2 separate regions of the Homo sapiens genome follow, and region 1 is linked to region 2. A link means that fine-mapping ties the variant in region 2 to the expression of a gene that starts in the linked region. Tissue or cell type: whole blood. Region 2 holds a variant in brackets; the other region holds the start of a gene. All regions are shown on one strand. Distances are from middle to middle.

The links. PIP is the estimated chance that this variant, and not a neighbour inherited with it, causes the effect.
Region 1: it holds the start of ZDHHC20, and the variant in region 2 is fine-mapped to the expression of ZDHHC20 in whole blood (TOPMed, PIP above 0.99).

What each region holds. Positions count from the first base shown.
Region 1 is chr13:21,455,191-21,463,190 of GRCh38, forward strand. It overlaps ZDHHC20 (zDHHC palmitoyltransferase 20), which reads right to left and starts at 4,113. Exons shown (of 13, transcript NM_001330059.2): 1 at 3,864-4,113. The coding sequence starts at 3,981. LOC124903131 (a long non-coding RNA gene) reads left to right here and starts at 4,357. Exons shown (of 2, transcript XR_007063713.1): 1 at 4,357-4,989; 2 at 5,193-5,456. RefSeq lists a silencer at 4,026-4,405, an enhancer at 4,269-4,438 and a cis regulatory region at 4,354.
Region 2 is chr13:21,356,088-21,364,351 of GRCh38, forward strand. It overlaps the pseudogene MIPEPP3 and the pseudogene GAPDHP52. Among named protein-coding and RNA genes, the nearest start is that of LINC00539, 15 kb to the left of the region's middle. The variant T/G (reference allele first, on the strand shown) is at 4,984.

The DNA of each region.
Region 1 (8,000 bases), 99 kb after region 2:
TTACAGGTGTGAGCCACCACGCCTGGCCAACATAGCTCTTTTGAGCAATAGTTTCATCAGAAGTAAAGGGACTGAATGAGATTATCTTTAAAATCTCTTTAAGTTCTAAGATTCTCTACATGCCAAAGAAGAGGTACACATCCACTAACAAGATGACCTGAACAACAAGATATTCTGATAAAACCTTGGGAACCAGAATTAGCACTTGCCTCAAAAATAACCACCTTGACCAAAGAGAAGAAGTTATTCAATCCATTCGTACTTTAAATATCAACCCTGGGGAAAAAAAATCATACGAGAATTTCAGTCTAATTTAAAATCAAGGACCAATATTACTAATTACTTAATCTTCGCTTCTCAGCTTATCACTCCTGTGAGATGGCCGTTTTACATGCATTACCCTCTTCCTCAATTTTGTCCTCAGTATTACTCCCAGTGAAGTGGTGTGTGTGTGTGTGTGTGTGTGTGTGTGTGTGTGTGTGTCTAATTACACAATTAGCAAGTTACAGAGGGTAAGATGGAATGAGGGCCTCTTGGTAATCAACAATTTGTTCAACTTACAGCCAACTGTGGGCCAGGTATTTTTATTGTCTGAGATATTTAGGAATCTTCTGCAGCTGCCTTTTAGGAGAAAAGTACTTTATATAAATATATCATATACAGGACTGAAATCTGCCCTGAGTGTCCAGATCTGGACACCAAATAGATTAGTCATTAATTGTATAGTGGTTAACAGCATGGGCTTTGGAGCCAAACCCCTTGAATTCCAATTCTTACCATGCTACTTACTGGCTCTATAACCGTGGACAAATTACTTAACCTTATGGGGATCATTATTAAGATTAAATGAATTAATACATACATGTAAAGATATAATTATGATCTTCTCCTCCTAGTTTGATAAAGAATACCAGAATCTAAGAATATCCTATAGGCCGGGCACAATGCCTCATGCCTGTAATCCCAGCACTTTGGGAGGCCAAGGTGGGTGGATTGCCTGAGGTCAGGAGTTTGAGACCAGCCTGACCAACAAGGTGAAACCCCCGTCTCTACTAAAAATACAAAAAAAATTAGCTGGGCATGGTGGCGGGCACCTGTAATCCCAGCTACTTGGGAGGCTGAGGCAGGAGAGTCACTTGAACCCAGGAGGCAGAGGTTGCAGTGAGCCAAGATCGCATCATTGCACTCCAGCCTGGGCAACAAGAGTGAAACTCTGGCTCAAAAAATACATATATAAATAAAAAGAATATCCTATAAAAGTATTAAAACAGCACTTTTAAGTAAAACTCACACTTCCCTCCATTTAAGTCCTCCTATAAAGTAATATATCTATACATATTTCAGTGGGAGGGTCAGTACTTATGAAAACAAATACATACAAGTAGTTTAAAGGATAGTTTTAATATGAGTAAATGCACTTTTATGCTCAACTATTTTATACTCCAGTGACACTGCAGACCTCCCAAATTCTCTCTAGTTAAAATGAGATAACTCAGAAGTTAATACAGCCTCTACATAAGACCTTTCACCACCAAATATTTTAAGATTCTGCCAAGCATCAGGCCATAGTTATAGAATGTTTTAACTTAATGAAATTGTAGGGTATAATCTCTACAGAATGGGCCTCAAGCCTAACTAAGTGATCTCCAAAAATATGCCAACCCCTTTATCCCCCCACACCATTATGGACCAAACAATTACAGTTCCATTGACCCTCATAGCTTACTGAAGTTATATGAAAGAACGGAAAGATGTGGGTCACATTCCAATAATCAATTGTGTGACCTAACCAAAAGGACCTATTCGCTCAGTCTCACGTCCTCCACCTGTAGAGATACCTATGCTGTGACATACTGAAAGAATTAAAGGAGAGGGTGAATGAAATGTCCCCTCTATGCCCACTAGCACATGGCACTTCTCAATTCATGTTCATTTCTCCTTCTTTATTTGAAGTGGTGAAAGAAATCAGAAGCAATTTAAGACTTTTCACAGCACTGTTTGATCTCATTTCTTAATATTTTTGACAAAAACCATCTACAGGTTAAGCTGTGGAATCTCAACATAAATGCACATTTTTAGTGTTCCTTCAGCTTTACTTCAAAACCACTACGGGAATTAAAATACGGTAGGAATAATCTTCTGACAGAATAGGAATGACATAACTTTTAGAATAAATGCCCACTTCAGAGTAAATAAGAAGATAAAGGAGGTATCATCATAAGTTGATGAGAATCCTATGATCACTACCACTTTCTGGAAGTAGCTCCCAGAAATATTAAAATCTAGTAATTTTAATTGACTCAAACATCATTTTTAGTAAACATTCTGGTATCCAAAAGCATGAGACTAAACAATGATATTGAAAAGATTAATATTATTTGGAAATGTATTCCACAACTAATTTATTCTGGGCCTACCTGCAGGGATAGTCGTCCCAAAATTAAACGTTCTATAGGTACAAAGTAATTTTAAAACTGGATGTTTTAATTTCAAAACTTATAAATTTTCTGAGCCAAAGCATTCTCTTCCATGTATAGAACTAGGGTTTTAACCAAATACTTGGTTGAAAGCTGTACAAATCCAAACATAATTGAAGTCTTGATTCTGCCACTTTCAAGAGTGGGTGGTACAGATTCTTCTCATTCATAACATTAGTTTCTAGCTGATGTGGTTCGTTATTCAAAGAACACTTAACAGTCCTTCATAAAATGGTAGATTCAGTCTAAGGACTAAGAGTAGAACATTCTGGAATAACAATAACGTTTACAAACACCACTTACCATTTGGTCCTAGGTTTTCATAAAAAATTGATATAGGCAGCAGATGTATACAGAACACCCTAGTTGAGGCCAGTTTAAGTGTAAAATACCCACATACTCAAAGCCTAAGAACAATTTACTTAAGACAAAACAATGTTGGAGAAATTGCCCAATATCACAAATGTAGCAGTCACCCCTAAACAGTGTTTTTGATTAATGACAACCAATTTCCTTCAATCTTAAAGGCAACCAATTCAAGCCAGTAGGTTAAATCCTTGAAGTATACTGCAATGCTACTCCTTTTTTCCAGGGAATCAGATGAGAATTTTGTGCTAAGAACTTATCAGGAAAATGGAAGTAACGAAAATTAACACGCCAAAATATGAGTATAAGAAATATAAGCCTCCTTAATAATCAGCCAAGAAAAAAATAATCAGGTTATGTCTCCTCCCACCCATTCTTTCTGTCTTAACCTTCTGCAAAAGCCGGCTGGATTCAGAGTAGAAATAAACGAATTTTACAATGAGTCGAGTACCACCAAAAATCAAAAGTGGGAGCTTACTCGTCCTCCAGGTCTGACCCGCCTCCAGCCCGAGGCCACCAAAAGACACACCTCCCTTCCCCCAACCCGCCACAGCCGGCTCTACAGGTAACAGGCGTTTCTTCTCGCGCAGTTTGAACAAAAACAATCCAGAAGGAACAGATTTGGTTTTTTAAAAAAAATGAACAAAAGCCAAAAAAGCCACAAACACAACCTAAACCTTCTAAGAAGCTCGACTACTCCCGTTCTGCACGTTCCTTCCCAGAAGGATGCAGACCCCCGGTGTCGGCGGGAACCAGGAAGCTCTTGGGGCCTCCCTGGGCCAGACCTGCACCCGGGAAGCCGCCGCAAGGCTTCAGGAGCCCCAGGTCGCCCCAAGGCCGCGCCGCAGGATTGAACAAAGCGGCGGGTGCAGCAACCTCGGCGCTTCCGAGCGCGTTCGGGGCCGGACGCCCGGCGTCCGGCGCTGGCTCCAGAAAGGCGGCGGGTGTGGGGCGCAGAGGCCTATCTCGCGCCCTAGCCGCGGCCCGCGCCCCGCCGCAGTCCCCGGGGACGGTACTCACACACGCAGAGCTCCACCACGTACGCGTAGTAGGACCAGACGACCACGAAGGTGATGAAGAGCACCGGCACCCAGCCCACGACGCGCTGGCAGCAGCGCCACAGCGTCCAGGGCGCCATGTTCCGCTGGCGGCTGCCGAGCCCCGCGTCCCACCGTTCTGGGGAGCGCGGGAGCCCCGGCGACGGTGACTCGGACGCTCCAGGCGGCTGCTGGTCCAGCTCCCCCGCCTCCGAGGCAGGACTTGTGGGAGCAAAAGTCCGAGGCGCCGCCGGGACTCCTCCCGTCCCGGCGCCCAGCCAGGCCCCGCCCCCACCCCACATCCCGTCGCCCCCCTCCCCCCGCGTCCGTCCCCGCCAGCCCGCCCGCCGCGGGCCGCGGGCCGCCCCCGGTCTCCGCGTCGTTGGGGCGGGGTTTCCGCGGCCGGGGAGGCGGTGAGGGGGCGGGGCCGCAGCTCGGGACCGCCCATGGGGCGTGGCGGGGCTGGATGCGGACAGGCTGGGCGGACGCGGGAGGCCGGGGAAGGAGAGGCGAAAAACACGCCCTTGATGGATGAGAGGGACAGGGGATAGCTTTTGTGGATCGAGACTCAATAGGGGAGGGAGACTATGGAAATGATTCCTTAGCTGATTTGTGGATCTTGGCCCTCTCTGTGTACAGAACTCGCTCCACTGGGGTTCCTGGGACATTGAGTAGTTGGGGCACTGTTTCAAACATGACAAGGCCATTCCCCACTCAGTGTGCGAAGAATGCACATTGTTAGAAGGCTCCTCCTGTGATTTTTATGTTCGTCCATCTTGGCGGAACCCCTCCCTTTCTTGAAGATGGAACGGTAGATACCTGTAATTTCGGGTAGAAGCCATGTAGGGTCCATCAGTTTGATTCGTAACCCAAATTTAAGATTGAGTAGCGAGAAGGAAAGGGCATGTAAATGACCCTCTCCTTGCCCCGCAAACGACTAAGGAAATTTAAAGAATTTATTTACAACTAGAGGTTGCTAAGCAATGACGATAATCATATAGAACCCAGAAGCATCACTGTGAAGACTTCACAATGCAAGGTCAGACGCATTAGAAGGGATTCCAGACCGCAATCTTCATACCAGTTCCTGCTACTAGCATTCAGTTTTGGTTAGAATGAATTTTTGTGTTTGTTTTTTGAAACAGGGTCTTCTCGCTCTGTCGCCCAAGCTGGAGTGCAGTGGCACGACCTGGGCTCATTTAAGCCTCGACCTCCCTGCTAAAGCACTCCTCCTGCTTCAGCCTGCAGAGTAGCAGGGACTACAGGCCCGCCACCATGCCCAGCTGATGTTTGTATTTTCTGTAAAAACTAGGTTTCGCCCTGTTGCCATGCTGGCCCTGAACTCCAAGGCTCAAGGAATCCCAACCCCTCTCCGCCTCCACCTCCCAAAGAAGTGCTGAGATTACAGGTGTGAGCCACCACGACCGGCCTACACTGAGCTTTAAATTAGCTACTGCTCACTAAAGTCTCCATGAAGAAGACGTCACCCTTTGCTGTGTCAGAGAAATGTAGTAAAAGCGAGTAAGTATTTAATCACTGCACACTGCTGCTTGAGTAATAAAGCATGTATAAAAGATTCTGTTCTCCCTGATTTTGTGCCTTAAAAGTCATATTAGTTAGTGGCCTAGTTGACAGTAGGTTTAGGTTCAAGTTCAACTAGTTTTCCAGAGAGGCTGCTTAGGAGGGTTAGACCTCAACATAGAATTCGGATGGACATGGAAGAACATAAAGCCGTTTCTCCTCTATGTCATCTCTACGTACCAAAACCATGCTGCTAGAGCTCAGCACAAAGCCATGTCCTTTACAAGCTCCAGGGCTGCTAGAAATGATCTTTCACGACATTTTGTTTATAACCTAACTATAAAACTGTCACATTCGTTTCCTAGGGTGACTATAACAAAGTACCACAAAACTGGGGAATAATAGAAATTGGTTGTCTCACAGTTTAGGAGGGTAGGTGTCCCAAATCAAAGTGTTGGCAAGGATATTGGATATGGTTTGGATGTTTGTCCCCTCCAAATCCCATGTTGAAATGTGATCCCAGTGTTGGAGGTGGGACCTGGTGGGAGGTATTGGATCATTAGGGTGGATCCCTCATGAATGGTTTAGTGCCATCCCCTTGGATGAGGGGTTCTTTCTCTAGTAGTTCACATGAGATCTGGTTATTTAAAAGAGCCTGATCCTTCCCCCACTCTCTCTCTTGCCCCCTCTCTTGCCATGTGACATGCTGGCTCCCCTTTGCCTTCTGCCGAGAAGGCAGAAGTCTATCTCTGTGGTCCTGTGTCTTCAGAGATAAGGATGTTCCTTTGTCTGGGTAGAGGGAGGGCACCTCTTGAATAACAGTCTTAGGTCTGCCTTCAGGGGAAGGCCTGAGACGCTTTTGCTAGTGCTATGGCCTGCTTCAGGGGAGAAGAGCGAGAGGAAGGTGAGAGGGACCTTCCTGTTGCTGTTGTCTCCAATGTTGTCTCCAACTGATGATTGGAAGCTTCTTGAGGCCTCACCAGAAGCATATGCTGACCCCATACTTTCTGTACAGCCTGGAGAGCTGTGGGCCAATTAATCCACTTTTCTTTATAAATTACCCAGTCTCAGGTATTCCTTTATATCAGTGCAAGAATGACCTAACACAGCCATGTGCCCTCTGAAACTTGTAGGGGAGAATTCTTCTTTGCTTCTTCCTAGCCTTTGGTGGTGACCATTAGTCCATGGCATCCCTTGACCTGCAGTGGCAGTGGCATCACCCCAATATCTACCGCTATCCTCAGGTGGCATTCTCCTTTCCTGTCTCTCCCCTTATATTGGGTTAAGGGCCTACCCTACTCTAGTATGGCCTCATCTTAACTAATTACATCTACAACAGGCCCACTTCCAAATAAGGCCACATTCTTTTTTTTTTTTTTTTCAGTAGAGTCTTGCTCTGTCACCCAGGTTGGAGTGCGGTCACGTGATCTTGGCTCACTGCAACCTCCACCTCCCAGCTTCAAGTGATTCTCATGCCTCAGCCTCCCGAGTAGCTGGGATTACAGGCGTGCACCACCACGTGAGGCCTGCATTTTGTATTTTTGCTAGAGATGGGGTTTCCCCATGTTGGCCAGGCTGGTCTCAAACTTTTGGAGTCAAGTGATTTGCCTGCCTCGGCCTTCCAAAGTGCTGGGATTACAGGCCTAAGCCACCTCGCTCAGCCAATAGTTTTGATACTCATTGAAATATGTGATCTTGCCTACTACCTTGTAAGGTTCTAGAAGGTAGAAAGTATTTCTTGCACATCCACAGTGACTTGCAGTAGGAAATATTTAGTAAGAAATTGTTGAACAAATATTTAAAGTTTTCTATTGTTATCCAGTTACTCCTCCTAACTTCTGGCGTTGCCAACCAGATTACATTAGCTTGTGATTTCTTTTTTTTCTTTTTCTTTTTTTTTTTTTTGAGACAGAGTCTTGCTGTGTTGCCAGGCTGGAGTGCAGTGGTGCAATCTCAGCTCCCTGCAACCTCCGACTCCCTGGTTCAAGCGATTCTCCTGCCTCAGCCTCCCCAGTAGCTGGGATTACAGGCACACACAACCACGCCCAGCTAATTTTTTGTATTTTTTGTGAGCCACCGTGCCCGACCAGTTTCTGATTTCTAAATGACTGCCACATATTCTAAGGTGATTTATGTGGGATCTAGAGAATATTTCTGATCTATGTCCTTGTACAATGAGGACAGACACATTTTTGAGGAGGCAATATTTTTATTATTTTGGACTCTTTCTGTCGTAAATGGTTACAGACATGAATTAATGTTCTTTGCTTGTGAGCAATAGAAGCCAGTATCTTAAACCCCTTCCTTCCATTTCCATGTTGGGCTTGTGATTTCACTCCATCTTTGCTACTGGTTTTGACAACAGGGAATCATTTAAAGACTTTAGGCAGTGTAGTGACGTGAGCAGAATTACATTTTATAACAATCACTCTGGCTGTGGTAAGAAGAACAGATTGGAGGGAGGAAAGTCTAGAGGCAAGGAAACCAGTTGGGAGGCCGTTGCAGTCGTAGAGCAAGAGATGATGCTAGCCTGACCTTGATTTGTGGCAGTGGAGAAGGTAATAAGAAAGCTACTTAGGGCTGGGTGCGATGGCTCACG
Region 2 (8,264 bases):
CGGAGGTTGCAGTGAGCCGAGATTGCACCACTGCACTCCAGCCTGGGCAACAGGGCGAGACTCAGTCTCAAAAAATATATAAATAAATAAATAAATAAATAAATATGTAAATGCTTTAACATAAACACATAGATGACTGGCCTAGACCCCACCCCCACCCCCCACCAAGGACCCCTCTACCTCAGACATCTCCTGGTCTTCACCCTGCCCCAGGCAGACAGTGACAGATGTCCACTCTGTTAGCCACAAGGAACTGGCCAGGTCAAGCTGGTGCAGAGGGAAGGGCAAGTCCATGTTCCTCACACCAAGAACTGTTGCCCCTGGGAGCTGGGAGAAGTTGGAATTGATTGGAATGCCCATGGTGGCCTGGCTGGGCCCAGGGATGCTGAAATTCATGAAAAGGGGACCTTCTGGGGCCTGTTGTCAGTCAAAGGGGGTGAAAAGGGGCAGATGTGAATTTCATATAGAAACTTTCTAGAAAAATGACATTGATTTTTCTAGAAATGAAAATAGAAATGTTTCATAGGCCAGGCACAGTGGCTCACACCTGAAATCTCAGCGCTCTGGGAGCCCGAGGCAGGAGGGTCACTTGAGCCCAAGAGTTTGAGACCAGCCTAGGCAACATAGGGAGACCCCGTTTCTACAAAAAAGTTTTAAAAATTAGCAGGGCGTCTGTAATCCCAGCACTTTGGGAGGCTGAGGCAGGAGGATCACGAGGTCAGGAGCTTGAGACCAGCCTGGCCAGCATGGTGAAACCCCATATCTACTAAAAATACAAAAAAAAAAAAAAAATTAACTGGTCAGGGTGGCGCAAGCCTGTAATCCTAGCTACTCAGGAGGCTGAGCCAGGAGAATTGCTTGAACCTGGGAGGTGGAGGTTGCAGTGAGTTGAGATTGCACCACTGCACTCCAGCCTGGGCAACAGAGCAAGACTCAGTCTCAAAAAAAAAAAGCTGTGCGTGATGGCATGTGCCTGTAGTTCCAGCTACTTGAGAGGCTGAGTCAGGAGAATCACTTGATCACTTGGGCCCTTGGGTTCAGGGCTGCAGTGAGCCATGATCACACCACTGTACTCTAGCCTGGTCAACAGAGTGAGTCTCTCTCTCTCTCTCTCTCTCTACATATATATACACACACACACACATATACACACATATATATAAATTTTTTAAAAAATGTTTTATAAAACATAAATACTTGGTCATTTAACCATTTTCTTATTGCTCTCAATGTCTAAATATCTCTTGGTAGAGAAGCTGACTAGAAATCTGCAGAAACTCGGGAATCTAGTGTCAGCCTCTGAATTGGTGATCCTCAACACCGGCTGCACTTCAGGACCTCCCAATGGGTTGGTTAACACTTTGTTCAAGCCCCACCCATCTCCGAGTCTGGTTTAAAGTGGCCTGGGTGGGGGTGGGTACAGGGATTTGTTAAATGCTCACCAGGTGGTTATAATGGGCAGCCCCGCTTGAGAGCCATCAAGGCAAAGTAAAAGTTGCGTTAACTTCCAGCAGCCACGCCCCTTATTTATGAAAGGAGTTGAAAACCTTTTCCACACAAAAACCTGCACACGGATGTTTAGAGCCACTTTATCCGTATTTGCTAAAAGTTGGAAACAACCAAGATATCCTTCAGTAGGTGAGGGGATAAACTGGGGTACATGCAGACAATGGCGTATTACTTAGCGCCAAAGAGAATTGAGCTGCGAAGCCATGAAAAGGCATGGGGGAAACTTAAATGCATATTACTGAGTGAAAGAAGCCAATCTGAGAAGGCTGCATACTGTATGATTCCAACTGTATGACATTCTGGAAAAGGTGAAACTATGAAGAGTATAACAAGATCAGTGGTTGCCAAGGGGGGAGCGGGAGGAAGGGATGAACTGGTAGGGTACAGAGGATTTGTAGGGCAGTGAGACTACTCTGATATTATAATGATGGATGCATGTCATAATGCATTTGTCAAAACCCATAAAATGTCCAACACAGAGAGTGAACCCTAAGGTAAACCATGGACTCTGGGTGATAGAGATGTGTCAATGTTGGTTCATTAATTGAAACAAACATGCCAGTCTGGTGGGGGATGTTGATAATGAGGGGAGCTGTGCATGTGTAGGGGGGAAGGTACCTGGGATATCTCTGTACTCTGCTCAATTTTTCTGTGAATCTAGAACTGCTCAGAAAATGAAGTCTGTTTTTAAAAGAAAAAAGCTGTGGCTCTCTTCTCTTCCTCGTTCGACAAACAGCTCCATCTGCTCATGCAGTGTCAGCCTCATCCAGGATACAATGGTGAGAGTCTGAGTCAATGGATTTGGCCATATTGGATACCTGGTCACCAGGGCAGCTTTCAACTCGGCAAAATGGACACTGTCATCATCAATGATCTCTTCACTGGCCTCAACTCCATGGTCTACATGTTCCAGTATATTTCATGACAAGTCCAATGGCACAGTCAAGGAAAGAGAACAGGAAGCTTGTAATCAAAGGGAAGCCCATCTCCATCCTCCAAGAGCAAGATCTCGCCAACATCAAATGAGGCAACACTGGTGCTGAATATGGTGCAGAGCCCACTGGCGTCTTCAGCACTACGGAGAAGACTGGGGCTCACTTGAAGTAGCCAAAACTGTCGTCATCTTTGCCCCTTGTGCTCTTGTGCAGATCCATGTTTGTGGTGGGTGTGAACCATGAGAAGTATGAATTATCTTCTCGAGATTGTCAGCAGTGCCTCCTGCACTATCAACGTTTGGCACCCTTGGCCAAGGTCATCTATGACTACAGTCCATGCCACTACTGCCACCCAGAAGACTGTTGGAGAAACTTTGGCGTGACTGCTGCAGAACATCATCCCTGTATCTACTAGTGTGGCCGAGGCTATGGGCAAGGTCATCCCTGAGCCAGATAAGAGGCTCACAGGTATGGCCTTCTGTGTTCCCACCCATAATATGTTGGTTGTGGCTCTCATCTGCCATCTGCAGAAAGCTGCCAAATATGATGGCATGAGAAGATGCTGAAGCAGGTATCGGAGGGCCCCCTCAAGGGCATTCTGATCTACACTGAGGACCAAGTTGTCTCCTCTGACTTTAAGAGTGGCACCTGCACTCTTCTACCTTCAATGCCACGACTGGCATTACCTTCAATGGCCACTTTGTCAGGCTCCTTTCCTGGGATGAATTTGGCAGCAGCAACAGGGTGGTGGACCTTATGGTCCACACGGCCTCCAAGGAGTAAGACCCCCAGACCACCAGCTCCATCAAGAGCATGAGAGGAAGAGTGAACCCCCAGCTGCTGGGGAGTCATTGCCCCACTCAGGCTCCCCAAAGTCAGTTTCCATTCCAGACTCCTGGAGGAAGGACAGGGGCTTAGGCAGCTCCAGCTTGTCATGCACCATCAATGAAGTATGCCATCCCCAGCCAAAAGAAAAAGGTCACATAACCTAACATGGGCAACAGTCCTCTCACATGATTCATGGTATTGAGTGTTTGGTTAGTAGAACAGAATAGTGGTCCAGTTTCCAAAATTTCTAATCATGTGTATACTGATAAAAGTGAAATCATTACAGTTGGTCGTTGGTTGATGTGATGCTCTGGTGTCTTTTGATGCAAGTGCTGCCATAAACTTTTCCCTCTGGCCAATCCCCAAGACGAGGCTTCTGCAGAGGGACTTTTGATAAGAATAAGACGCCAAAGACATTGAGAATCTCCCAGTTCAAAGGAGCCCTCCCTAGCTCAAGGTTGCCTAGAATTCTAGCCCTCTCCTCCGAGGCTTTATGGGGCTGGTGTTCCTGGGAGTGTCCGTGTCACAGTGTGAGTAGCTATGCACCTAGTGGGACTGTGTTGCACCTGTTCCTGAGAGCAGGTGTGATTAGGAAACAGCAGAACGAAGGGCAACATGCAGGCACGTGGGGGTGAGAAGGCACTGGCACATCCCTCCCACCTGGGGGTGGGGCTTACTGTAGGAGAGGCATGGTCTCCAGAGGACCCCTCCCTTCACCACTGTGCAGGATGCTCAGTCAGTCCTGAATATTACAGCCAAACCCTAGCCAGGGCCCCTGCCACCTGAGGTAGTGGCTGAGTGTGTGGGGATGGAGTTCCCATAGCCTGCCGGCAAACTCTTCGGGATCACACACATCCTAAGAGCAAAGGAAAAGAATCCATGCTAGCCTATGTCCCTCTCTTCTCAAAACTGCTTCGGGAGCTTTAGTTCTTGGAGAAACCACACTTTTCGGATCCAATTTCAAGACTTTCCACATGTCCCTTGTAAATGAGGATGTGCACTTCTCGAGCCTGAAGAGTTTGTAAAAAGGCCACAATTGGTCATTCCAGGGACAGTGTCAGAAAAGCGGGTGGTCTTCCTGGGAAGCCAAGGGGTGACACACTCCTGCAGGGGTTCATTCTATGCATGACACATTTAAGTCAAAGCTCTCCCCACACAGGGTTCAAAGGAACAACCTCTGGGATATTTTGCAGACCAGCAAAGGGTTCCCATGATGTGGGCAACTCTCACTCACATCCTTGGAGGCATCAGCAGGGCTGGCTGGGATGCAGGCTGCCGCTTGTGCTGGAAGTGATATTCACTCTCAGAAGGGCAACCTGGATCACTTCTCCCTTCGGAGTGTGGTGCAAAGAGCTGGATGTCCAGTCATGAGAACTTCTGGGTACAACCCTATGGTCGTATCTTCATCTCAGAGCAAACGCAAATGCCCTGTGTTGCCTGCCACCCTGGAGGGTATGAGGATCAGAGGAGGTGCTTTGGAAACACCTTGAAACTACATAGAGCTTTTTGGATATAAGCTCGATGCTGCTTATCTCCCAGTGGCCCTTTGGGAGGAAATGGAATCACTGTTGAACCCAATGCAACTCTCAGAGAAGTCAAGACACAGGGTAGATTGGTTGTAGAGGCCCCTCGTGCCCGTCCCACACATCACAGATGTAATCCTTCTTTTGAGTTGCATGAGGCAGGTCTCTGTGGCTTCCAAAACAACGAA[T/G]CCTCCAAGGTCAAATATATTTTTTAATTTCTCATCAGAGTTCTTTGAGAAAGGGAACTTTGTTTTCAGTGTCTCTTTTTGCAGAGGATAATTAATACTACTGATAAAATTGCTGGTTCTATGGGTAGACCTGTGATGCTGGGATCACACGACCCTGCAGGCCTTTGAGTCGCTGGAAGCTGTTGCCTTCCAGAGGGAGCCCTGCACCCCAGGGCTGTGCAGGAGGAAAGAGGGAGCCCATGGAAGTGGGGTCACATTGTGAAGGGCCAGCCAACCCCACGGACGGTCCTGGCTCCCCTGGAGACACATGACAACGTTCCTTATAAGTGGGCTTCTCCAGCTCAGGCAGTTGACAGTTTCAAGAAATCCGTTAGAAGAAACAGGCAGAGTTGTGATGCTGGCAAAGTTCTAGGGCTTTTTTTTTTCTTTCCCCGTTTTAACTGTTAAAATTTATCTCCGACATTGCACAAACGAATGAAATCAACAGCCTCTTATCACATCCCAAATCTGTCAACCAATGTCTACCAGCCACTTGGAGCCAAAAGCCTCTTAGCACGTGTGTGACTTGAGCTGAGAAGGGCAGGACAGGAGCGCAGGCAGCTTTGTTCTGGCACCGTCGTTCCCAAACATTTGCTCATTTAGAGCCCAGGAGGCAGCAGTGCCTCCACAGCCTCTGATCTCGGTTCTGCGGGCTACCAGACAGGGTTCAAGCACCTCCCTGACAAGCCTTCATCTCTTTCTTCAGTCACCAACCACCACCCATGGCCGTAGGGGCCAGTGGCCAAATTCTATGCTGTCCTCCTAGCCTTTCATGCATGCCCAGGTCTCCATGGGGTGGGAAGAGTTAGAGGTACTGCTGTGAATCCACAGTTGCCTAAAGTGGCTTGGGCTGAACCAGATAGAGAAAGAAGCCCAGCCATCCCTGGGGCACAGTCACCCTGGCACCCACCTTGGGCTGAGCACTTTCATGACTGGAAGCTTTGGAGAACAAGTCCTTGGGCAGTACCTCTGGCTGGGCTGGCTCCAAGAGTTTCTGATCCTGGACAGATCCCAGGGTGCACCTCTCCAAGACATGTCTGTTCCCATGACATCTGGAGGAAAGAGACATAAGACTTAACGTAAGTTTCCTTAGAGTTCATTTGAGTTAATCTATCTATGTATTCCTGGGGGCAGCACATGAAAACTACCAATATTAATAAGTACCACACATGGGGTATCTCCCATATGCCGGGCACTTTTTATACAGGCATAGCTGATTTTAATTGCACTTGGCTTTATTGTGCTTTGCAGAGATTGCATTTTTTACAAACTGAAGGTTTATGGCAACATGGCATCGAGCAAGTCTACAGGTGCTCACTTCCTGTCTCTGTCACATTTTGGTAGTTTTTTGCAATATTTCAACCTTTTTCATTGTTATTATATATGCTATACTCATCTGTAATCAGTGATCTTTGGTGTTACTACTGTAATTGTTTTTGGGCATGATAAGCCACACCCACATAAGACAATGAATTAATCAATTAATGTTGTGTGTGTTCTGACTGCTCGACTGAGGCTGTTCTCTCTCTCTCTCTCTCTCTTTCTTTAAGCTTCCTTATTCCCTAAGACACAACAATATTGAAATTAGGCCAATTAATAACCCTACCATGGCCTCTAAATATTCAAGTGAAAGAAAAGTGGTATGTCTCTCAACTTTAATCAAAAGCTAGAAATGATTAAGCTTAGTGAGGAAGGCATGTTGAAAGCCAAGACAGCCTGAAACCTAGCCCTCTTGTGCCAAACAGCCAGGCTGTGAAAGCAAAGAAAAATTTCTTGAAAAAAATTAAAAGTGCTACTGCAGTGAACACACGTATGATAAGAAAGCGAAACAGCCTTATTGCTGATATGGAGAAAGTGTGCGTGGTGTGGATAGAAGAGCAAACCAACCGCAATGTTCCCTTAAGCCAAAGCCTAATCCAGAGCAAGACCCTATCTCTTTGGTTCTATTAAGGCTGAGAGAGGTGAGGAAGCTGCAGAAGTGAAGTTGGAACCTAGTAGAGGTTGGTTCATAAGGTTTAAGGAAAGAAGCCATCTCCGTAACATCAAGTGCAAGATGAGGTGGCAAGTGCTCCAGATCTTGCTAAGATCATCGATGAAGGTCACTACACTAAACAACAGATTTTTCATGTAGATGAAAGAGCCTTCTACTGGAAGAAAATGCCACCTAAGACTTTCATAGCTAGAAAGGAGAAGTCAATGCCTGGCTTCAGAGCTTCAAAGGACAAGCTGACTCTCTTGTCAGGGGCTAATGCAGCTGGTGACTTGAAGTTGAAGCCAGTCCTCATGTACCATTCAAAAATCCTAAAGCACTTAAACTTATGCTAAATCTACTCTGTCTGTGCTTTATAAATGGAACAACAAACCTTGGGTGTCAGTACATCTGCTTACATCATGACTTACTGAATATTTTCAACCCACTGTTGAGACCTTCTGCTCAGAAAAAAAAAGATTTTTTGAAAATGTGACTGCTCATTGAGTACCAGGTCACCCAAGAGCTCTGATAGAGATGTACAAGAAGATGAATGTTTCCATGTCTGTTAGCACAACATCCATTCTGCAGCCCAGGAATCAAGGAGTCATTTTGACTTTCAATTCTTATTATTTAAAAAATACATTTTGTAAGGCTATAGCTTCCACAGATAGTGAATCCTCTGATGGATCTGGACAAAAGAAATTAAAACCTTCTGAAAATAATTCACTATTCCAGGTGCCATTAAGAACATTCATGATTCATGGGAGGAGGTCAAATGCCAACATTAACAGGAGTTCGGAAGAAGTCGATTCCAACCCTGGATGCCTTCGAAAAGCTCAATTGAGACTTTGGTCAATTTACCATAGGAAGTCACTGCAGATGTGGTGGAAATAGCAAGAGAACTATAATTAAAAGTGGAGCCCAAAGATGTGACTGAATTGCTGCAATCTCATGATGAAGTTTAAATAGGTGAGAAGTTGCTTTATATGGATGGGCAAAGAAAGTGGTTTCTTGAGACGGAATCTACTCCTGGTGAAGATGCCATGAACATGTTGAAATGACAACAAAGGATTTAGAATGTTACGTCGACTCAGTTGATAAAGCAGTGGCAGGGCTTGAGAGGATGGACTCTAATTTGGAAAGAAATTCTACTGTGGGTGAAATGCTATCAAACAGCATCACGTGCTACAGAGACATCTTTCGCGAAAGGAAGAGTCAATTGCCAAGGCAAACTTCATTGTTGTCTTATTTTAAGAAATTGCCACAGCCG